7 linked regions of the Homo sapiens genome follow. The protein of the gene in region 4 purifies or fractionates together with the protein of the main gene of each other region. This does not show direct contact. Each region holds a gene or a part of one and is shown on either strand. Other genes may lie near its edges.

Region 1 (3,500 bases), on a different chromosome or scaffold from region 4:
TCACTACATAAAGCCATACTTTTTTCTTAGAGCGTTTCCTCCTTGCTTCATCTATTTGATTAGAATAATAAAATTGATTATAATAAAATATCTATCTCATGTCTCATAATAGAAGGTGTTCTGTAGTTTCTATTGTTGTTTACAACTTAAATACTGGCTTTTGTTTAAGATTTTTAGGTAAGATTTTCTTTCCAAAGGTCATTTCTAAAGTTATTTACATTAAAAAGTTATTTACATTAAAATCGACTTTAAAAAAAGTTAACATTTATATATATGTTATTTTTCATAAGCATTTCTAATGACCATTTTTTTTGTAATGACCATATTTTTTTTAAATTTAGAGTTTCTCCACCTGGTGGTGATTTTTCTGATCCAGTTACATCTGCCACTCTTGGTATCGTTCAGGTATGTCTTTCCCTAGTATAGTCAACTTCTGAGCCTTTCCTCCTCTCTGCAGCCCCTGCTGTTCTAATGCGATCTAATGTAATCGTTGTGAAGTATTTAATTTAGTCTCTAAAGGATAGGCAATGGTAAAGTCTGGTTTAGAAACACTCTTAACACAGAGCCTTTAATACTGTCTGTTTTTTTCTTAGCTGTTTACATAGGATTTATAATAAACTTAATAATATATAAGTGGAAAATATAGGTAGCAAAAATTTTATTAGTATTAGAGTAGTATTATCCTTTAAGTCATAGTAACCCTAGTTATAGAAACAAAGAGGCCCAAAAATGTGTAATACCCAGAAGTTATTTCACTTCACAGTATGATCCAAGGCTCTCTTCTGTTTAGTGATAATTCTGAGTCCAGGATTCTTTCCATCTTGTGACTCCACTGTCACCTAGCCTGGTGATCATCTGCATCTAGCTGACACAAGGGAGCTGGGCCTTGTGGAGAAGGCATACCCACCTTTTTTGAACCTTGGATTCAAAAGTGACACAGTCACTCCACTCATTCTATTAGCCACATCCAGGTGAAAGCAAGGCTGGAAAATGCAGTTTCTGCCTAAGCATTTGCTTTCCAGTGACAAGACATGAATTTTAGTGGATAGGTAGCCAGCTTGGCTATTAAAAGAAGCCCAAATAAAAGATGTGTACAAATCAGAGCTATAGTTAAAAAAAAAAAGTGATATGTGTATATTATTCATGTGGGAAAAACAGAATATTTACTTGTGTTTCTGACAGTATCAGAGAAAAGGAAATGTCAGAGGCTAAATGTACAACTCTCAAGCTTTTTAACGTTTGCTAAAATTTTGAGTTTTAAATTATGGGGAAAGAGGGAACAGAGTTAGAAATGCATGGAATATCTGTGAATGTTTGCCCTTACAAAAATCACTGTCAGTTGTTGTTGGATTGGCCCTGTGAATGATAGGCAACTAAATTTAATCAAAACACTTAGATGTTTTTGTTTTGTTTGTTTTGATACGGAGTTTCACTCTTGTTGCCCAGGCTGGAGTGCAATGGCACAAACTTAGCTCACTGCAACCTCCACCTCCCGGGTTCAAGTGATTCTCCTGCCTCAGCCTCCCAAGTAGGTGGGATTATAGGCACCCGCCACCACACCTGGCTAATTTTTTGTGTTTTTAATAGAGACAATATTTCACTATGTTGGCCAGGCTGGTCTTGAACTCCTGACCTCAGGTGATCCACCCGCCTCAGCCTCCCAAAGTGCAGGGATTACAAGCGTGAGCCACCATGCCTGGCCCAGAACAGTTAAAAAAAAAATTTTTTTTTTTTTGAGATGGAATCTCACCCCCATCATGCAGGCTGGAGTGCAGTGGCGTGATCTCAGCTCACTGCAACCTTCATCTTCCGGGTTCAAGCAATTCTTCCTCCTCAGCCTCCCAAGTAAGCTGGCATTACAGGCATGCGCCACCACCACGCCCGGATAATTTTTGTATTTTAGTACAGACAGGGTTTTGCCATGTTGGCCAGGCTGGTCTCGAACTCCTGACCTCAGGTGATCCACCTGCCTCAGCCTCCCAGAGTGCTAGGATTACAGGCGTGAGCCACCATGCCTGGCCAGTTAGAGGTTTTTAATCAAAGTAAAGTGTGTATTCGATCTACATAAACCTTTTCTGGTTCTATTGTACCATAATAATTTTCAAAAGAGTAAATTAATTTTTCTTTTTGCTTTTGGATTTGGCACAGTATTAAGAAAATAGAGGTAAATTTTAAATTCGATTTGTAGGTATTATGCACTTGGAAAATGAAAGGAAATAGATTATTGTCATTTTCTGCAAGTTTTATTCTGTTTTAATTTTACTTAGTATATACTAAAACGATGTATAATTTGACCAGTGAATTGTAGAATTGCATATTTAGGGGTCAGGCATGGTGGCTCATGCCTGTAATTCCAGCACTTTGGGAGGCCAGGGATCACATGAGGTCAGGAGTTCGAGACAAGCCTAGCCAACATGGTGAAACCCCATCTCTACTAAAAGTACAAAAATTAGCCGGGCCTGATGGCGCATGCTTGTAATCCCAGCTACTGGTGAGGCTGAGTCAGGAGAATTGTTTGAACCCATGAGGTGGAGGTTGTAGTGAGCCGAGATCATGCCACTGCACTCCAGCCTGGGTGACAGAGCAAGCCTCTGTCTCAAAAACAAAAAAAAAAGAATTGCATAGTTGGGACAAACATGCTTCGGTATTTTTTAACTTTGTTTTTTGAGAAAAATTACTGTTTTTGTGTGTGTGTTTTTTTTAATCAGGTGTTCTGGGGCTTAGATAAGAAACTAGCTCAACGTAAGCATTTCCCCTCTGTCAATTGGCTCATCAGCTACAGCAAGTATATGCGTGCCTTGGATGAATACTATGACAAACACTTCACAGAGTTCGTTCCTCTGAGGACGAAAGCTAAGGAAATTCTGCAGGAAGAAGAAGACCTGGCAGAAATTGTACAGCTTGTGGGAAAGGTGAGTTGTTAAATTCCATGGAAGATAGATCTGTGGGTTACACTGGGGTGTTTCAAGGACAGATAGAGCCTTGGATATTACAGATTCTTGCCTAGCAAAATAAATATTTATTAAATATTTTTAATTGAAATTTTCTATTCATTATAGTACTTAGCATGGTTTTTGGGTATATTGTATGTGAGAAAGAAACATTTGATTTACTTTTATCTTGAAATGGAATATACCCATCACCAACCAAATTAGAGGTAGTAGATTTAGGATTTGTTAGCATACATTTTTGTAGGAATGCTAGGGCTAGGTTTCAGAAGGATTGGCTTCTAGTTCCTCCAATAATTAGCTATTGGCCTTAAACAGGTGAGTTACATTCTTGTGCCTGTATCTTGGATTCTTCAAGGAAAGATGGTGTAATTAAATTTAGGCAAATTAAATGCCAGAATGAAAAGACTTCTCAGATAGTATGCAATGCTAGTTAGTACTCAGAGTTCTTTGTCTGGTTTTGTTCTTTTTATTACATGTTACAAAGTCATCTCCTAATTTATTCCAAAAAAGGTTAATATTAGGAGATAGCTAACATTCTAACATGTATTA
Region 2 (3,500 bases), on a different chromosome or scaffold from region 4:
GGGTTTATATTTGGTGGAAAACTGTCCGATTGAGTATTGACTTTCTCTGCATTTCAGTGGTACAGAAATCTTAAAAGTACTTCAGTCTACTGAGCCATCCTTTGAGGACACACTCATTTTACATGTATTACTTACATGAAACAGATTGAAAAACAGATGAGGCATACATGTTCCCTTAATGTCCACCTAAGGAAACAGTGGATTATACTCATACTTTATAGACACCATTGAGTATTTAGTATGTGTAAAGCACTATGCTAAGTTACTTTCACTTCCATTAACCATCCTCAAAAGGCCTATGAGCTAGGTACTGTTACTCCATTTTACAGTGAAGAATTGAGGCACAGAGATTAAATAACTTGCCTAAAGTCATGTAGTTAATCAGAATTCAAATCTAGGCAGTCCTCACTCCAGAGCCTATGTGCTTAATCACCACACTGTAGCCTCACTGGAAAAATTGGACACAACTGAGTTTTCACTTCTGCCTGACCTCTAAGAGCTAAGTGGATTTTCAGAGGAGAAATTTGTACAGCTTACAGCTAGTCTGTGGCTTCAATATCTGTTGACTAGTGTGAAAGCTCATATCACTTTTCAGGATGTATGCATTTTAGTTTTGAACATATAACCATAAAACTGGTGGAAAAAGCAAGTGCTGGCCATTTGGCTCTGCTGAGCTAAAAAGACCTATATAAACACATTTCTTCTGTCTTGTCTTTTTTCCCCAGGGCGATATCATGAAGAATATCTTTATCGTGCAGGTCAGTAAGATCTAGAAGTGATCTGGCATTCATCATTGTTTATAGAATTTCAAGCTATAAAATAATGCTCATTTTTTACTTTGGCTATATTCTCTAGAGCCAGACTATGAAACTTCAGGTGTTTATAGCACAACTGCATCTACAGCAAACTTGGTAGGTATTTAATAATAGCAAAGAGTTATAGCTCCTACTATGTACTAGGGCACTGTTAAGAGCTATACATATAAATGTATTTAAATCAGAACAACCCTGTGAGGCTTAGTATCATTCTCATTTTGAAGATGAAATTGAGACAGAAATTAACTCGTGTTCTGGAACTAATATATTTAGAGATATTCTAACATAGGCAGTAATGATCTTTTAGAAGGTTTTATTATGATTTTTTTATTAGAATGGATGATACATCTCACTCAATATAACAAAAGTTTGCTTCTCCTTTATGCTACATGTCTAGTAGAGGTCTGTAGAAGGGCTTGCTCAGGTACTTAGGCTGATGGAAATTCATCCACAATTGCCAAGGCAGGAAATAAAATTCGGTAAATGGTGCACTGGCTCTTAGAGTTTCCACTAGAGGTGATACATGTCACTTTCTTTTCCATTTCACTGGCCAGAGCAGGTCCCACTGAAGAGTCTTAACTTTTCTGTGCTGGAAGGCAAAAAGAAACATGTTAACAGCGCTAAGAACTATATCATTCAACTTGCCCTCCCTCTCATAGGCAGAATACTTGTTTCTGTCTCAAAGGAGGCATCCTAAAATGTCCCATTCAGTGTAATCAAACTCAAAGCCTAGGATTTCTGGGCTATGTGTAGTACTTGTTATATTGGGTCCAGATGTAGCTTCTTGTGATCTTGAGACTTAAAACCAAAAATACAGAGGTTTTATTTTTTCCCCCTCCCTCCCCAGTTTACAGTGCTGAAGCAGGGACTGAAATTTCTATTCATAAAGGGAGAAAAAAACAGTTATTGGCCTGTAGCAATTCTGAGACCTTCATGGGCAGACGTTGTAAGGGCCCCCAACATACTCATGGGACTCTTCCCTGGAGGAACTCTCGTTCATTTTCTGGGGCTCTTGGTTACTCCCAAGGCCCATCCTTCCTTGGCAGTGTTTGGAGTAGGCATTGGAGAATAATCCTTCCTTGGCAACCGAGCAGCTTTCTAAGCTTGCTACTTACAGAAGATTGGAGGCCCAAGGGTGGTTTTATCTCAGTTGAATGGTTTTAGTTCTGGCTCGTGATTTCTTTGGCTGTAAGATTAATTTATTCTGCTTCTGTTTGATTTCTTTTGGTTTCATGTACCAATAGCCATACTACAGTTCTTTTCTATAGATATACTACTAAGATTTGCTATAATTCTTTGTGGTTTTATCCTTATATTTCTGTCTATTTGATTGCAAGTGGCTTGAGTTTATCAGGCACTGATGGAAGAGCCATGCATTTTGGACATTTTTCTACAAGCCATTTTGTTGAAGTGCAAGGATTTACTAGGTGTTACATCCTTAGTTGAACTCTAGCTTTGAGACATCTTAATACACTCGGGTTTTAACCAAAGAGTTCATTCTTGCTGCGAGGTCGAGTTTTCACTGTTTGTCGTTGTTCAAACCATTCATCAATATTACCTTTTATAGTTTAGGGTTGAAACAGTTGTTCCTTCAACCCTGTGAGTCCCTGTATGCAAGGAATCTATTCCCTTTCATTCCTGCCTGCAAACTACTAATTCTCTCCTACATACACCTGTCTTAAAATAACTTGCTTTAGACAATGCCAACAGTTATCAAAGCACAATACTAACATCATGTCTTCTAAATTGCTTACCCTAAGAGCTACATGTTCATAATCTCCTTCTCAATTAGGATTTTGTTATAGCCGTACCCTACTTCTAGTTACCAATTTCTGTTTTAGTCAAGCTAGGTTATGCTGCAGTTAACAACCCCCCAAAATCTCAGTGGCTTAACTCAGGAAAAGTTGTTCTTGCTAATGTTATATAGTTCAATGCGAGTTGGCAGCAGGCTGCCAGACTATGACTGTTCTTCATAGTCACCCAGGGACCCAGGCTGATGGACACATGCCATCATGATCATCACAGCAGGGCAAAAGATACAGAAATTGAACACTGACATTTCTGGTCATATTTTATTGACCAAGTAACATGGTCATTCTTGACTTTGGATGGAGCTGGGAAGGGCAATCCTACCATCTATTCAGGAAATCTGGAATATTTATGAAGAACTTGAATAACTACCTTATATTCTCTAATTATGACTAAACTGTGGCAGCTTCATGTACTAAATTTTTGTTTTTACTGTTTAGACAATATACCTTAGGAAGGAGAAGAAAACTCTGATACGTAATTCTCTTTCTGTTCTTTCTCCTTCCCTTACTTTGCTCCTTCCAGAGAAAGTTTTTTCCCCCATTTCCTGCCACCATTACTATTCTCATATCATGTGCTTTTGATATCACCTCTTGAAGTAGCCAAGTAAGAATCTTACCACAAGGGATGACAAGAATACTTTTTTTCTGTTCCTTCAATTTCACTTGTCACATGTTCCTTTTTGTTCTGAATTTAAACAACCTCAATAGCTTTCAATCTCTTCATATGTTCCAAGCCCTCTGCCCCCATCACCAAATCCATAGCAAATTTCTATTGTTGCTAAAATAAAGGATAAATGTCTTCAGAATTATCAGCATACATTAAAAAAAAACTCTTTGTCTTTAATTTTTAATTTCAATAGGTTTTTTGGAGAAC
Region 3 (3,500 bases), on a different chromosome or scaffold from region 4:
GTAGTCCCAGCTACTCGGGAGGCTGAGGCAGGAGAATTGCTTGAACCCGGGAGGCGGAGGTTGCAGTGAGCTGAGATCGTGCCACTGCATTTCAGCCTGGCGACACAGTGAGACTCCATCTCAAAAACAAAAAAAAAAAGATGATGCAGTCATGGGTGTGGGTTAGGTAAGTGTGAAGGAGTCAGTTTTTGCTGGTGGCAGGTAATGGACTTTTACACGCTTAATATCAGAATTAGAGTCACTTCATAATTTTCGTTGAGAATTAGCCAATATTGCTTGCTTTTTAAGTTTTTATGTATCTTAATATACTCCTTAAAAATCTCTCAAACAATAGTTTCTTGGAAGGGTGTCATTCCTGACTCCCTCCTCCACTGCCTTCGTCAGCTGTTATAACAGCGCTGTGGAATCATGGTAGATAGTGGTAATCCACGGTCCATTTGATTCTCCCTCCACTGTGTTTCTTAGTCTCCCGAGGATCTCAGGACGTGCAATGATTCAGAGCTTTATCTCCTCATTTGCAAAACTTTTATATTTAATAAAGGAAGCTATCCCTAAAGAGAGTTCAATTAGCTCATCACTGTTCTTACTCAAATTGTACCTAACAATTAAAGTAGTAACATAGACGTCTTCAGAATTAAATGAAAGCTAAACATGAGAGTGCTTTAAAACACATGAAATTAGGGCAAATGCGTAGCATTATCACAAAAGATGCTACCTCTTCATACCTCTGACTTGGAGTACTTAAGGAAACCAAAACATTCTGTGTTTGTCCAAATATGGTATTCAATTCAAATTTATACCATATGGTATTCTCTGACTAGAAACTTGTGTCAGTTGAAGTGTCTGCCTAAAACAATAATATCCAAGAGTGACTTGTTATAACCAATAAATTTTGTGTTCAGGGAGAAAAGTCATTACTACACCAAAAAAGGAAGGTTGACCAAAAACTGGTATTACTTTTCAAGTGTGATTATGAAAAGCTGTTGTAGTAGAACAGTCATGGCAGGTAGTTTGTGCTCTGAAATAACAGAGCTTGTCAGGATTTGCCAGCTTTTATCTTTTCCTTTAGTAGATTCATTCTTAAAACCAAACCTAATATTTTTCGTGCTGTAGTGGGAGAATCACCTGAGCCCAGGAAGTTGAGACTGCAGGAAGCCATGATCACACCACTGCACTATAGCCTGGGTGAGGGGAGTGAGACCCTGTCTTCAAACCGCAAAAAACAAAGATCCACTCTTTTTGTTATACAGTTCCACGGATTTGGACAAATGCATAATGACATGTATCCACCATTACAATATCATGCCAAAGAGCTTCACTGCCCTAAAAATCCCTCCTCTACTCTCCCCAAAACCCTGACAACCACTTCTCTCAACTATTGCTAGATCCTCGGCTTTTCTGGCATGTCACATAGCCAGAATCATACAGTATTTGCTTTTTTTCAGATGGCCTTCTCTCCCTTAGCAGTATGCACTTAAGGTTTCTCCATGCCTTTTTATAACTTAATAGCTCCTTTGTGGTTTTGGTGAATAATAGTCCATTGTATGGATGTATCAGAGTTAGATTATCCATTCATGTATTGAAGGACATCTGGGTTGCTTCCAACTTTTGGCATCATGAATGAAGCTGCTTTACATGCTCTTGTGTAGGTTTTATGTGGACATAACATTTCATCTCAGTTGGGTAAGTTAAGACTAGGTTTAGGTTTGTAAAAAGCTACCAGAACATCTTCCCAAGTGGCTGTGTACTATTTTACATTCTGCCAGCCATCAATGAGAGTTCCTTTTGCTCCACATCCTCATCATCATTTGCTGGTCAGTTTCTTGGGTTTTATCCATTCTTGCAGGTGTGTAGTGATATCTTACTGTTTTAACTTGCAGTTCTCTAATGACATGATACTGAGCATCATCTTATGTGCTTTTTGCCATCTGGTTGGTTTTTGTTTTTGTTTTTTGAGACAGAGTCTTGCTCTGTCATCCAGGTGGAATGCAATGGCACGATCTCTGCTCACCACAACCTCCACCTCCTGGGTTCAAGCGATTCTTCTGCCTCAGCCTCCTGAGTAGCTGGGATTACAGGTGCCCACCAGCACGCCTGGCTAATTTTTTGTATTTTTAGTAGAGACGGGGTTTCACCATGTTGGTCAGGCTGGTCTCGGAACTCCTGACCTCGTGATCCGCCTGCCTCGGCCTCCCAAAGTGCTGGGATTATAGGCGTGAGCCACCGCACCTGGCCCTGCCATCTGTTGATCTTCTTTGGTGAAGTTTCCAGATCTTTTGCCCATTTTTTTTATTTGGGTTGTTTGTTCTCTTATTGCATTTTAAGAGTTGTTTGTTTTGGATACAAGTCCTTTATCAGAGATGAGTTTTAGAAATATTTTCTCCCAGCCTGTGGATTGACTTTTCATTCTCTTCACAGTATTTTTCACAGGACAGAAGTTCTAAATTTCAATAAAGCCCAACTCATTTTTTTCTGTCATGGATCATGCTTTTGGTGTTGTGTTTAAAAACTCATTGCCAAACCCAAGGCACCTGGATTGTCTCCTGTGGTATCTTGTAGAAGTTTTATGGTTTGGCATTTTATATTTAGGCCTGTGATTCATTTTAAGTTAATTTTTATTAAATTTGTAAAGTCATTGTACAGATTAATATTTTTGCATATTAGTGTCCAGTTGTTCCAGTGCCATTTGTTTGTTGAAAAGAATATCCTTTTTTCCTTGAATTGCTTTTGCTTTTTTATTACTGTAACTTTAGAGGAGGTCTTAACGTCAGGTAGTGTCAGTCCTGACAATATTGTTTGACTTTTCTAGGTCTTTGGCCTTCCTATATAACCTTGAAAATCAGTTTATTGATATCCACAAAATAGATATCAACTAAAATCAAACTTGCTGAGATTCTAATGGATTTTTAAAATTGTAAAACACATGGAACATGAAGTTTATCATTTTAACCATACAATTGTGTGCGGGCATTTTTAACTTCATACTCCAGTAGTTCAGGGCTGCTGCAGAGGAATGCAACTAGCTTTTTATATACACTAACCTTATATCCTGCAACCTTGTCATAAATGCTTATTGGTTCTAGGAGGGGCTATTTTTATTCTTTGGGATTTTCTACATAGATAATCATGTCATCTATGAACAAAAACAGTTTTATTCCTTCCCTTCAAATTTCTATGCCTCTTATTTTCTTGTCTTACTGCATTAGCTAAGACTTCCAGTATGATACTGAAGAAGAGTGATGAGTGGGGATTTCCTTGTCTTGTTCGCAATCTTATGGGGAAAGCTCCTAGCCTCTCCCATTAAATCAGAGATTTTGTGTGTTGTTTTTTTTTTTTTTAGCAGGTTGAGGAAGTTCTCTATTCCTAGTTTGCTGAGAGACTTTTTCATGACTGGGTGTTAGATTTTGTTGGATGCTTTTTCTGCACCTATTGATTGTATGATTTTTTCTTTAACCTGTTGACGTAATAGATTATATTATTTGATTTTTTAATATTGAACC
Region 4 (2,782 bases):
TTGCTCCAGCAATATGACTGTACAAGAGGGATTCCTGATGTGGTCACTCATATAGAGTTGAATTTTTTTTTTTTTTTTTTTTTTTACTAGTTATTACTGACTGTAACAAACTTCAAGAGTGGTTGAAGCTGGAATGTTTATAACTAATATAAACCAGATGAAAATATGAAAAGTGAAATTATAATTAGTGATCATAATAAAATGTCATACTTATTCTGAGTGGAAATATTGGGGAAAGTATAGAATATTTGAGAAAAAAACCCCACACCTTCAGGATAGTAATACTTGCTTCTTACATTTTGACTTTCACATCAGGCCTTCCTTCCTAGGAATCAGAGTTCAGACAGAGGAGAGGTCTCTTTGGGCTGAGTTTCAGGAGTGACTTTAGGATACATTTGAATTGAGCCTTGAAGTCTGGGGAATGCACCGGGGAGCATTAAGGAAAGGAAGCCCAGGGCAAGTCAACGTCACAGGCAACTTGCATGGCAGGAGGAAACTGCAGGGCATGTTTGGAAAAACAAGTCTTCTAGTTTGGCTAAAGCATGAATTTTGTGGAGTTACGAGTTGGACAAAAAGGATGGAAAAGTAAGTTGAGCCAGATGGAAGACAGCCCTGAAGAGCAGGCTAAAATTTATTCTGGAGGCAGTGGGAGGCTGAAGCTTTTTGAGCAGGAAGTGTAACTTGCCTAAGGCCATCAGGTCAGTCTGGTGGCTGTGTAAGCAGCAGTGAGTGTGACTCTGAAGACATATCATGTATCAGTTCACTGATTGCTTTTCCTGCCAGATATTTAAGAGCATTCTGTTGATGTGTAAAAGCCACCCAGTAAATAGTTGAATAGGTATGTGCTGTTAATGTACCCTCTCTCCTTCATTTTCCTCACTGAAACAAAATGTACGGACCAGGTGACTCTGAGGCTTCTTTCAGTTATAAGATACTATGTAAGTTTTTTTTTTTCTCCTCACAGAATTTACTGTTTGGAAATTGGTAGTTTATGATTTGAATAAGTGAATTTTCACTTCCTTACATGAAGATCTATGGTCACATTTAAAGACAGTAATATTTGATTGATTAGCTTTGGTCCAGTTTCTGCCTATTAATGTATTATTCTACATCCAAAGCCATGCTGGAGAAGGACTAATTCAAGATGGAGCAGAGGCCTTGACTCTACTTCTTGGTGGACATGCCACCCTTGTTCCATGGAATGAATTCCCCTGGTCAGGGATGCTGGTCCCAGAAGTCCTGCTGTACTCTTGAGTGTTTCAGAAGTGGTTTCTTTGCCTCTAAATGTGAAGAGTGTAGGCATCAGGCATCTCTGCTGTTGACATAGTCACTTTCTTCAAACCATTATTAAAATGATGTACTACTGCATAATTTCACAACATGATTGCTGCTTAGGTGGAGGGAAACTGTTGCATAAAGTTTTTAAAAGGTTGACTTTAAATTTGTCTGTTGTACTCATTCATTATATTATCAGGTTAATAATTTGTCTTATTTTGTCTTCTTAATCTAGGTATTAGAAGGCAAAGCAAAACTCCCAATGGATAAATCAGTGCCTGGTGTTCTGAAGTGGGAAAAAATAGACTAACTTCAGTAGGATTTATGTATTTTGAAAAAGAGAACAGAAAACAACAAAAGAATTTTTGTTTGGACTGTTTTCAATAACAAAGCACATAACTGGATTTTGAACGCTTAAGTCATCATTACTTGGGAAATTTTTAATGTTTATTATTTACATCACTTTGTGAATTAACACAGTGTTTCAATTCTGTAATTACATATTTGACTCTTTCAAAGAAATCCAAATTTCTCATGTTCCTTTTGAAATTGTAGTGCAAAATGGTCAGTATTATCTAAATGAATGAGCCAAAATGACTTTGAACTGAAACTTTTCTAAAGTGCTGGAACTTTAGTGAAACATAATAATAATGGGTTTATATATGTCATAGCATAGATGAATTTAGAAACAATGCTCCTACTGTTTAAATACATATGGACACATCTGGTGCTGAGAAAGAAACAAACACATTACCATTGGTGTCAAGAAATATTACTATATAGCAGAGAAATGGCAATACATGTACTCAGATAGTTACATCCCTATATAAAAAGTATGTTTACATTTAAAAAATTAGTAGATAACTTCCTTTCTTTCAAGTGCACAATTTCATTTTGACTTGAGTCAACTTTTGTTTTGGAACAAATTAAGTAAGGGAGCTGCCCAATCCTGTCTGATATTTCTTGAGGCTGCCCTCTATCATTTTATCTTTCCCATGGGCAGAGATGTTGTAAGTGGGATTCTTAATATCACCATTCTTGGGACTGGTATACATAAGGCAGCCGTGAAACTGGAAAGTCATTTTGATGACTGATGTGATACATCCAGAGGTAAAATGCATTTAAACATATTAAAGTATTTGCCAAAGATACAATTTTCTTGCTGACATAAAAATCACACAAACAAGTCCCCCCCAAACCACAACTGTCTCTCAAATAGCTTAAAAAAATTGAAAAACATTTTAGGATTTTTCAAGTTTTCTAGATTTTAAAAAGATGTTCAGCTATTAGAGGAATGTTAAAAATTTTATATTATCTAGAACACAGGAACATCATCCTGGGTTATTCAGGAATCAGTCACACATGTGTGTGTGTCTGAGATATAGTCTAAATTAGCAAAGCACATAGTATTACATACTTGAGGGGTTGGTGAACAAAGGAAAAATATACTTTCTGCAAAACCAAGGACTGTGCTGCGTAATGAGACAGCTGTGATTTCATTTGAAAC
Region 5 (3,500 bases), on a different chromosome or scaffold from region 4:
ATATTTTTCCTACTAAGAAGGCTAAGGTTCCAAAGGTATAATACCATGCATACGCTAACATTTAGTAAAAGTGTACATCAAGCAGTTGAGCCAGGATTTGTGACTCTAAAACCCATACTGTTTCCATTCTCTAAGCTCCACTGTATGCTAGTTGCAGGACGATGGGCAAGTTATATAACTCCTTTGAACTTTGATTCATTCATTCATATAAAAAGGAGATAGTCTATATTGGATTCTGGTGAAAGTTAAATGAGAAAAATCCATGGAATGTGCTTACCACATAGTAAGTTTCCAAAACATGTTAGTTATTGCTAGTAATATGCTTTGCTAGGAATAACCATAAACATAATTATCTATTTAAGGTCCACTGGTAATCAATCACAGCTTTGCTGGTGATCTGCCCGTCGGGGACTACCTTTGTTACAACCTCTAGTCATGTATTTTCCTTACCCCCTGACTGTTTTCCTCTGTGTTACTGACTAAGGCTTGGAGATCTGACCCAAGTCTCCTTTATTCCTTGGTGTGTTAACTGCTTTTCCTTTCAAACACCCCAGTCTTCATGTTGTGAGCCTGCCCTGGCATCCTGAACCTGATTTCACTTTGCTGCCTTCCTTGACAGTATGGATTTGAGAGTGTTCTCCAATACAGTTTTCTCAACAGTCAAGTCCTAAGTCCCTGGACTTGGCAGCTCTTACAGTTGTGATTTGTATCATTTATGCTATAGCTTCCGGATCTCTTACTTTTATAGGATCATACCAAAAAAGAGTTGGATTCTTGGAAAATTGTCCGAGTTAGTGAAAATTTCCGAGTGATTGCCTTGGGCTTGCCAGTGCCAAGGTATTCTGGGAATCCATTAGACCCCCCTCTTCGTTCTCGATTTCAAGCCAGGGATATTTATTATTTACCCTTCAAGGTAAGTAAGACCAAGGATAATTTATTTGTTAAACAGTTTTTCTATTTATAACAAGAACTTCAATGCTATAAAAATGTTACTGCAGTTTTGAATGTCTTCCTGAGTAGGTCATGGAAAGATATGAGAATAAAGAGTAAAGAAAAGCTCTGGAAACTAGGAAGAAAAATTATTATGGCATTATTTGAAGGATTTTTTTTAAAAGGCTGGCTTTTCTTTTAGAAAATGAAATGTATCAATAAATGATTTTTTGCTGTTAAATATTTAGTGTCTGCTTAATTAAAAGGTTGGATTGTATCTACAAAACATTTGCATTTAATCTGTTACATTTCTTGTTAATTAATTTAATATGTTTCTGTATTACTTTAGGACCAACTTAAGTTGTTATATTCAATTGGAGCCAATGTTTCTGCTGAGAAGTAAGTATATTTTTATAAATGTCTGGACACTGAATATTGAATTTGTTTTGCCTGTTCATTGATTGATTGATTAATTAATTCAGTCATTCAACAACTAGAATTCTTATAAGAATTTTTCAGTATTAGGATGTTTGGTGATAAAATTAATAAGATATCTTTGGCAGGAAACTCAAGATCTAATAGAGTTGAAAGATATGTGAATAGCTTTGGTTAACATGGTATAGTAAGTGCCATAATTTGAAAATATTTGGGGGCATTAGTTGAGACTTTATAAGGGCTTCATAAAAGCATTGGTGTTTGAAATGGGTCCTAAATAATGAGCAAGTTTTTGCCAGATAGAGAGTGGAATCAAGAAATTCGAACACAACAAGTGTTTTTTTTTTGTTTTGTTTGTTTGTTTGTTTTAAAAGCATGGAATGTGAGAGTTTATGCCTTGTTTTTAGGGCCATAAAAAACTCTTGGAGGCTAGAGTTTAGGTTTGGGATTACGAAATGTGAGAGATGAGGCTGGCAGGGTAGATTTGGACCAGGTGGTGAAAAACCTCAAATATTGTGATGAATTTAGGAATATATTTGCATCTAATCAGCTTCTGAGTTTTAAGTAGGATATTATGATGCGGAACCATTGTTCCTTAAGAATTAATATTAGGGATCTTTTTTAGATTAATTAAATTGGCCCCTGTATTTTATATTTAACAACTTACACATTTTATATTTTAAAACTATTAAAATTTAATATCATTTTTCCCTTAGAGTTTCTCAGCTCTTGTCCTTTGCCACAACTCTGTGTTCCCAAGAATCTTCTACTCTTGGACTTCCAGACTTTCCTTTAGATAGTTTAGCAGCTGCGGTTCAAATCTTGGTAAGTAAAATAAATTAATGACTGGCATACCCAAATATGTTAAAAATTTTGAAAGTTAATCATTAGGGATTAATGACTTCAGTTTGCTTTTGTCATACTCTTCTATAAATATTGTAAGGCCTGAGATTAATTTGTTGTGCAGTGCAGTAAACTGTACAGAGACCAAGGACATGTTCTGAGCCCCTAAAGAGCTTTCAGCTTTGGAGTAGGAGCTAGACATGCAATCTCAGTAAAGTTCTACAGAGGGAAGGAAGGCTTTAGCCTGATCAAGTAAGAGGTGTGCTGCAGTGTGAGTTAGGCCTCAGAGCTGTCCTTACCTGAGTTAGGGGAGCTAGGGCTTTCACACTGTTCTAGCTTCCATCAGTCTCTGTGTCATGGTTGTCTCAGGGGACACAAATTCCCAGACACTAACTGCTCTCCCAGCATGTGTGCAAGGGTGGCTTCAAGAGCCCAAGGATCGTCTTCTTAGAAAGACCTACAGCAATTGCTGTTGGAAGAGAAAGCTAGGAGGCACAAGAGAGAATGCAAACAGATCTGAGGGGATCTGATAGAGTACAGACATTGTCCACTACAGTTTCACAAAGGGCATGGCGGTCATGTCTGGAGTGATAAAAGGCCCAGGAAGTCAAAGCACAGGCAAATGTGTTTAATCACAAAAGGGCCTAGTATCTTTGGAGAATGAGAATAAGTTGTATCCCTAAAGCAAGTGTGTGTGGTAGAGGGAGAAGTCAGACCGCTATTGTGAAATGTTTTGCATGATGAATGAAGTTTCCTGGATTTTATGATATGGAAAAAGTGGCTTATCAGACAATATTAAGTTGGTGGGCTATGAATGTGACCAGACTTATGTTGGAGGAAGACACCTTTGTTGGAAGTGAGGGAATGACTAGGAAGCTTTTGTAACACTCAGTGAGACCCTGTGGAGGAGGGCACCATCCAAGATAGTGGGAATACTATCTTAGGCAAGAGACTTATTTTTAAACTTGTATGTATGTATGTATGTATGTATGTATGTATGTATGTATGTATATATGTATGTTTCATGTGAGTCAGGGAGCCTAGGTATTGTTGACATTGTTCTATACATCCAGAACAGAATTTCTCCTCCTGTTTATCAAATCTTATACTTTTATCAAATCTTTTTGTTTTTGCTTAGAACATTTTATTTTGAAAATTCTTATGAAATCTTTTGTTTTTGCTTAGAACATTTTACTTTGAAAATTCTCAAATGTAAAAAAAAGTTGAAAAACAGTAAAACATTCATAATCCCCTCACCTACAATCACCCATTATTAATATATTGCCACATTT
Region 6 (3,500 bases), on a different chromosome or scaffold from region 4:
AAAATGGCATATATTTATACCTGCCATTGCCAGTGACCTCCACCTTGCTAAATCGAATGGTCTGTTCTCAGTCTTTATTTTATCTCAGCTTGTAAACAGCATTGGACATGGTTGATCATTCTTTTCTCCTCAGTATGCTGTCTTCACTAGTTTTCCATGGACAGCTCAATCATTTGGTTCTCTTCTTTACTGGTGACTCCTTAGTCTCATTTGCTGGTTCCTCCTCTTCATCCAGTCTCTTAGTGTTCCTGAGGTTAGTCCTCAGTCCTCTTCTATTTACCCCTATGAGCTCATCCAGTCTCATGGCTTTAAGGACTCTAAAAAGCTAGACCTCCAAAATTTATGTATCTAGCCCAGACCTCTTCCCAGACCTACAGGCTTGTATATTTAATATTCGTCTCAATGTCAGCAGTTGAATATATAACAGGTTTTTCAAACTTAGCATGTCAGGTAGATTAGTAATAAAACAACACTTTTAAGTAATGTGCATCAGTGTAGAAATAGGGTGGAGAATGACATCAGAGCCTGGTCTTTTTAACTCTGGTAAAATAGTACTGCTTCATTTGGGGGACAGACTTTATTCTCAGCTCTGGGCCTGCTATATTTGATATTCCTTTAATAGGTTGGGCTCCTGGAATAAACTTTCTCATTTTTCCTTTTCCTTTTGTTCCTTTCTTTTAGACTTTAGATTTAATGTACAAATGAATTGGAGTGGCAGGAGACAGATCATTTTTTTCTAAAAGTAAAAATTCAGTTGTTTCTTTTCCCACCTGCATTGTTCATCATGTTAATGCCAGTTCTTTTTTAGGTATCATCTTTATCAGAAAGTGAGGAGTCCCAGGACTCATCCGACAGCATAGGCTCCTCACAGAAAGCCCACGGGATCCTAGCACGGCGCCCATCTTACAGGTGAGTACTCTCTTGTATGAAGCCCTGCATGTTATGATAGTACCAAATGAGTTCAAGAGGTGCTGTGCAAAGTACACTAAAGAAGTTAGCACGCGTCAGTGTTAAGAATGAAATTGGTTGGCCCTCGCCTATAATCCCAACCCTTTCGGAGGCCGAGGTAGGATTGCTTGAGCCCAGGAGTTCAAGACCAGCCTGGGCAACATGGCAAGACCCTGTCTCTTCAAAAAATACAAACCTTAGCTGGACATAGTGGCGCACGCCTGTAGTCCCATCTACTTAGAGGCTAAGGCGGGAAGATGGCTTGAGCCCAGGAGTTTGAAGTTACAATGATCTGTGATTGTGTCACTGTGCTCCAGCCTGGGTGATAGAGCAAGATCCTGTCTCCAAGAAAAAATGAAATTGGACCTTTGGCCGGATGCAGTGGCTTATGCCTGTAATCCCAGCACTTTGGGAGGCTGAGGCGGGCAGATCACCTGAGGTTAGGAGTTTGAGACCAGCCTGGCCAACATGGTGAAACCCCGTCTCTAATAAAAATAGAAAAATTAGCCGGGTGTGGTAGTGCACACCTGTAATCCCAGCTACTTGGGAGGCTGAGGCAGGAGAATCACTTGAACCTGGGAGGCGGAGGTTGCAGTGAGCCGAGATTGTGCCACTGCACTGCAGCCTGGGCAACAGAGCAAGACTCTGTCTCAAAAAAAAAAAAAAATGTAAATTTAATCTTTATCTTACACCATTACACAAATCAACACCAAATGGATAAGAGACCTAAATGTTAAGACCTGAAACCATAAAAATCCTAGAAGAGAACATAGGCGATAAGCTCTTCGACATTGACCTTGGCAATGATTTTTTGGATATCACACCAAAAGCTTAGGCTACAAAAAAATAAATAAATGGGACTACGTCAAACTAAAAAACGTGTCTGTGTAGCAAAGGAAACAAAGCAACAAAATGAAAAGGCAACTTACGGACTGGGAAAAAATTATTTGCAAACCACTTATCTGATAAGGGGTTAATACCCGTAACTGAAGACAAAATGAGAGAACCTGAGGATACAGCTCTGAGTAGATTACCTAGAATGGAACACAGAAAGACAAAGTTAAGATAGAACACAGAATGAGAAGGTCCAGTACACAACATACATAGATAAAAGGAGAGAAGAGGGAAGGGCACTTCCAGCTTCTAGTCTCTCCAGGAGAGAAAATGATAATGACTGCAATTTCCAGGATATGAATTTCTCAGCATAAGAAAGCAAGGTCCCAAACAAGATAAATTAATAGAAACCTACATCTAGGTGTATGTTGTAAAGTAAAACTGGAGAACACCAAGGATAAACCTGAGATCTTAAAAGCTAAAAGCTTCCAAGTGAAAAGACCAATTACCTAGAAAGGAAGGACCAGTAAGCTGACAACAGATTTTTGAAGTACAGTATAAGACAATGAACTAAAATCCTTATTTTTATCTTTAAATTATTACATGTTTTTTTGAGACGGAGGTCTCACCCTGTTGCCTGGGCTGGAGTGCAGTGGTGTGATCACAGCTCACTGCAGCCTCAACCTCCTGGGGTCAGCTCCTCAGCCTCCTGAGTACCTGGGACTATAGGCATATGCCATGATGCCCACCTAATTTTTTTTAATTTTTGGTAGAGATAGAGTCCCACTATGTTGACCAGGCTGGTGTCAAACTCTTGGGCTCAAGTGATCCTCCCACCTCAGCCTCCCAAAGTGTTGCTATTACAGGCATGAGCCACTGTACTCAGGCTCCAATATTTAAATTCAAAGAGAAAGTAACTTTTGACCTGGAATTCTGTGCCTACTGAACAGTCTTTCAAAAATGACGGTGAAATAATAATCATTTTCAAACTGATTTAAGAAACTACTTAAGGAGGCTGGGTACAGTGGCTCACGCCTGTAATCCCAGCACTTTGGGAGGCCGAGGCGGGTGGATCACTTGAGGTCAGGAGTTCGAAACGAGCCTGGCCAACATGGAGAAACCCTATCTCTACTAAAAATAAAAAAATTAGGTAGGCATGGTGGCACATGCGTGTAGTCCCAGCTTGAACCCAGGGGGCGGAGGCTGCAGTGAGCTGAGATCGTGCCACTGCACTCCAGCCTGGGTGACAGAGTGAGACTCCATCTCTAAAAAAAAAGAAAAAAGAAACTACTTAAGTGTATACTTCAGGAAGAAGAAAATGAAAGGAATATAAATGTGAGAAAGTATGGTGAACAAAGACAATTCATTTCAGTTAGCATTGGCTTTTTAGAACAATAGTAATAATGATTAATTTGGGTAGTTTCATGGTTGTTGTTTTTTTTTTGAGATGGAGTCTCGCTCTGTCATCCAGGCTGGAGTGCAGTGGAGTAATCTCGGCTCACTGCAAGCTCCGCCTCCTGGGTTCATGCCATTCTCCTGCCTCAGTCTTCCGAGTAGCTGGGACTACAGGCGCCCGCCACCACACCTGGCTAATTTTTTGTATTTTTTAGTAGAGACGGGGTTTCACTGTGTTAGCCATGATGGTCTCAATCTCCTGACCTCGTGATCTGCCCACCTTGGCCTCCCAAAGTGCTGGGATTACAGGCGTGAGTCACCAT
Region 7 (3,500 bases), on a different chromosome or scaffold from region 4:
AAATGCAGGCCCAGTGAATCTCCCCATGCCTGGACACAGTTCCGTCAAGCCAGGACCCGGTGCTGCCTGCACCCCTGTTTCTGTTAGTCTGACTGTCCTCGCTGAGTCTAACTCCTTGAGGGCAGAGAGGATGTCTTATTTATTTCTGCCCCGCTAGCCGTGTAAACTGAGTAGGTACTTGTAAATGTTCATTGAATAAGTACCTGATTAATAGAATTTAATTCAAGAAGAATGTATTGATGGGCCTGTGTGGTCACCACAGTACTGAGATGTAGGTGGGAGCTGGCTGAAGGGGGAGGCACCTAAACAGGAGTGCAGACAGCGGCACCTACGGATGATGGCCCGCTCCATCCCACCGCAGCGAAATTGTCCCAGACCTCTGCAGCTTCCCCCACACCTAGACTGAGAGAGAGCTCTTCTTCCTTCTGTAGGGAGCAGGTGTTTCCTCCAGATGTCCAATATGTACCTCCCATTACAGCGGTGTTAGGAAGGTGAGGGCTGCCGCTGAAAGGGTCCCCTTCATAATCATCACTAGATTTGGGGTATATTATGGATTAAATAGAATTTTTATAAGATGACCTGAGGATCTATTTAAATAAAATCCTCTTTCTTTCTGCAAGATCATGGATTTAAATTCAACACAACTGACTTCATAGGGAAGGGGTATGGTGAAAGGGAAGTGAGGTGGGCAGCACTGATATTTAACAAGGTGAGGGTCCTTCTCCTGCTCTGACTGTCACATTAAAATATTCCCAGGAGAAATTGGAGAAAACTCAGATGAAATATCGTCTGTGTTCCAGGAGGCAGGACTCATCGGAATGCTTTTATTTTGCTCCATTTTAAGAGATTTGCAGATAAAGAGGAGTGAAGATTTCTATTCAGATTTACTTGCTTTATATTTTAACTTATAGACCACAAGCCAACTTTCGAAAGAGCATCATTTTGAATAGTAAGAGTTAGGAAGGCAAATACAGAAGGACTAATGGCTTCCAAGATTATGAGCTTCATAGGAATGGTTTGAGATGAGGCTATAGTAAAGCAGAATATTGAAGTTCCCCCACCCCCTTTCATTTTTCATTTTTCATTTTTAAGAGTGAGCGAGGCCAGGCGTGGAGGCTCACACCTGTAATCCCAGCACTTTGGGAGGCCGAGGTGGGCAGATCACAAGGTCAGGAGTTTGAGACCAGCCTGGCCATCATGGTGAAACCCTGTCTCTACTAAATGTACAAAAATTAGCCAGGCTTGGTATCAGGTGCCTGTAATCCCAGCTACTCAGGAGGCTGAGGCAGGAAAATTGCTTGAACCCAGGAGTCGGAGGTTGCAGTGAGCTGAGATCGCACCACTGCACATCTCAGAAAAAAAAAGAGTGAGGCCCCAAGTTTTTTTGCATTTGTTTGTAACTGAATACGTCTGAAGTTATGTGATAACCACGCCAAGGTGACAAATTGCCAAGTTTCAGTAAAAGAGACCCAGTTATTTAGAGGTTGACACGTGGATATGTCCCTTTCTAAGAAGTTCGTGGTCAGCTTTACATGAGTATTTAAATGCGTGTTTATAATTCAGCAATATGGCTTGTAAAATACAGATTGCCAATCAAGTGACATGCAAATCTTGATGATCTGAAACAAGTTTTCTTCTGTTATCTATGGAAGAAATGGTAATAGGGATATTTAAGTGGGATGAATTTTTTGAAGCATTTTCAGGCAGTTTTCCACATGGAACAAAATAACATTGAGTGGGCTGCTAACATGAGGAACATATTGCCCTCTGCCTAGGATTATGAGTAAATTTGATAAATTCTAGACTGCAGTCTCATTTTAGCTCATTTTATGAGGCAGCTTGACAACTGGGATAGTGTCTCTTTTTTTTGTCGGGGGTGTTGAGGCTGGAGTCTCGCTCTGCTGCCCAGGCTGGAGTGCACTGGCGTGATCTCGGCTCACTGCAACCTCTGCCTCCGGGGTTCCAGTGGTTCTCCTACCTCAGCCTCCTGAGAAGCTGGGATTGTAGGCATGTGCCACCACGCCCGGCTAATTTTTGTATTTTTTAGTGGAGACGGGCTTTCACCATGTTGGCCAGGCTGGGTCTCAAACTCCTGACCTGAAGTGATCTGCCCGCCTCAGCCACCCTAAGTACTGGGATTACAGGCATGAGCCACCACACCTGGCTTCTGTTCTATCTGTGCATTGGGGATGAAATTAACACAAATGATGTTTAAAGAAAAAAATGCTCAGAGAAGTTAGAAATGTGCTTTAAATTGGAATCATCTCTTAGTATGTAAAAGTTTTTTGTAATAGAAACAAGCAGGGCAGTATTTGACCTGTTGACAGTGTCCTTGGACTTTACAATTTGTGAAGCAGCGTATTTTGCTTGAGTTGTACGATTGTCGTTTTTTTCCCCCCACTTTGACAACTGTTACAGAACCTGTCACCAGATACAGGCAAGGGAGGTTGGGCTTCCCATCTCTGCACGGCTTCCCTGTGATTCACAAGCAAGCAATCAGAAGTGCACAAAAGTTTAGAACGCGATTTTCATTCTCTTCTTTCCTTAGAAAAACTCGCTTTGTTAGCCTTTTCCAGAAAGGAAGGCACTCAATTGTTGTAATACTCAAATCATAAAAAGAAGCCTAGTCTAGTCTATTCAGCAAGGTGTTCTGAAAGAGGGAATTTTTTAAGTTCAATTATGCGAAGATCTTGAAGGTGGGACTCAAAGGAGAGGGCTATCCTGGGAAGAAGGCTTTGGAAAATGAGAGGCATGAAGGGGAGAGGGTATTTAAATGTGTTTGAAGCCAAGGATCCTTGAGAGAAAAAGCTGGCACTAACAGCGTTCAAAGAACTTGCGTGACAAGTGATGACTAATGACACTGAGGGTGGGTTGTGGGTGCCTAGTGAATTCCTCCGAAGCCAAGAGAGAGGTTTCCAGACCCAGGGAAGAAGGTGTGTACACCCAGAAGTAGTGTAGGGACAGAGATTCCGATCACAAGCTGTGACTGGAAGACGCCGACCACCACTGCAGCAGCCTGAAAACCACAGTCTTGAACCGCCAGCGAAGGGCTGGGAAGTGCGGATCCAGGGCTGGTGCACTGAACCCAGAGGAGCAGGCTCCCATTCCCAGCTAAGGGTGGCAGCTGGCGGGGATCTTTCCAGCAGAAAGCTGTAAGTGGAAGCTTTCAATTCAGAGCAGTAGCAATGCCTTCAAAGTCCCAGGCTTCACGTGGGAACAGAGAATGTGAAGAGTATTTAGCAGGATGCCAATATAAGAAATCTATATTGGTGTTCGTTTGTTTGTTTTTGAGATGGAGTCTCGCTCTGTCACCCAGGCCGGAGTGCAGTGGTGCGATCTCAGCTCACTGCAATCTCTGCCTCCTGGGTTCAAGCGATTCTCCTGCCTCAGCCTCCTACATAGCTGGTACTACAGGCACGCGCCACCATGCCTGGCTAAATTGTTGTATTTTTAGTAGAGATGGGGTTTCACCACGTTGGCCAGGCTGGTCTCAAACTCCC

Evidence for each region.
Region 1: the proteins of LOX (region 4) and ATP6V1A fractionate together in Homo sapiens (co-fractionation; one large-scale study listed by BioGRID). This does not show direct contact.
Region 2: the proteins of LOX (region 4) and ALG13 purify together in Homo sapiens (affinity purification with mass spectrometry; one large-scale study listed by BioGRID and IntAct). This does not show direct contact.
Region 3: the proteins of LOX (region 4) and ATP5F1C fractionate together in Homo sapiens (co-fractionation; one large-scale study listed by BioGRID). This does not show direct contact.
Region 5: the proteins of LOX (region 4) and VWA8 purify together in Homo sapiens (affinity purification with mass spectrometry; one large-scale study listed by BioGRID and IntAct). This does not show direct contact.
Region 6: the proteins of LOX (region 4) and ATF1 purify together in Homo sapiens (co-immunoprecipitation; one large-scale study listed by IntAct). This does not show direct contact.
Region 7: the proteins of LOX (region 4) and PPARA purify together in Homo sapiens (co-immunoprecipitation; one large-scale study listed by IntAct). This does not show direct contact.

Annotation. Positions count from the first base shown.
Region 1 is NC_000003.12:113,795,535-113,799,034, forward strand, and holds part of ATP6V1A (V-type proton ATPase catalytic subunit A), read left to right. Parts: intron 1-341; coding exon 342-405; intron 406-2,708; coding exon 2,709-2,912; intron 2,913-3,500. UniProt on the Homo sapiens protein: Catalytic subunit of the V1 complex of vacuolar(H+)-ATPase (V-ATPase), a multisubunit enzyme composed of a peripheral complex (V1) that hydrolyzes ATP and a membrane integral complex (V0) that translocates protons.
Region 2 is NC_000023.11:111,729,670-111,733,169, forward strand, and holds part of ALG13 (UDP-N-acetylglucosamine transferase subunit ALG13), read left to right. Parts: intron 1-725; coding exon 726-758; intron 759-855; coding exon 856-911; intron 912-3,500. UniProt on the Homo sapiens protein: Catalytic subunit of the UDP-N-acetylglucosamine transferase complex that operates in the biosynthetic pathway of dolichol-linked oligosaccharides, the glycan precursors employed in protein asparagine (N)-glycosylation.
Region 3 is NC_000010.11:7,791,177-7,794,676, forward strand, and holds part of ATP5F1C (ATP synthase F(1) complex subunit gamma, mitochondrial isoform L (liver) precursor), read left to right. Parts: intron 1-3,500.
Region 4 is NC_000005.10:122,065,478-122,068,259, reverse strand, and holds part of LOX (protein-lysine 6-oxidase isoform 1 preproprotein), read left to right. Parts: intron 1-1,510; coding exon 1,511-1,517; 3' UTR 1,518-2,782. UniProt on the Homo sapiens protein: Responsible for the post-translational oxidative deamination of peptidyl lysine residues in precursors to fibrous collagen and elastin. Regulator of Ras expression. May play a role in tumor suppression. Plays a role in the aortic wall architecture.
Region 5 is NC_000013.11:41,884,610-41,888,109, reverse strand, and holds part of VWA8 (von Willebrand factor A domain-containing protein 8 isoform a precursor), read left to right. Parts: intron 1-748; coding exon 749-913; intron 914-1,279; coding exon 1,280-1,329; intron 1,330-2,081; coding exon 2,082-2,190; intron 2,191-3,500. UniProt on the Homo sapiens protein: Exhibits ATPase activity in vitro.
Region 6 is NC_000012.12:50,795,101-50,798,600, forward strand, and holds part of ATF1 (cyclic AMP-dependent transcription factor ATF-1), read left to right. Parts: intron 1-797; exon of another isoform or gene 798-808; coding exon 809-909; intron 910-3,500.
Region 7 is NC_000022.11:46,157,026-46,160,525, forward strand, and holds part of PPARA (peroxisome proliferator-activated receptor alpha), read left to right. Parts: intron 1-3,500. UniProt on the Homo sapiens protein: Ligand-activated transcription factor. Key regulator of lipid metabolism. Activated by the endogenous ligand 1-palmitoyl-2-oleoyl-sn-glycerol-3-phosphocholine (16:0/18:1-GPC). Activated by oleylethanolamide, a naturally occurring lipid that regulates satiety.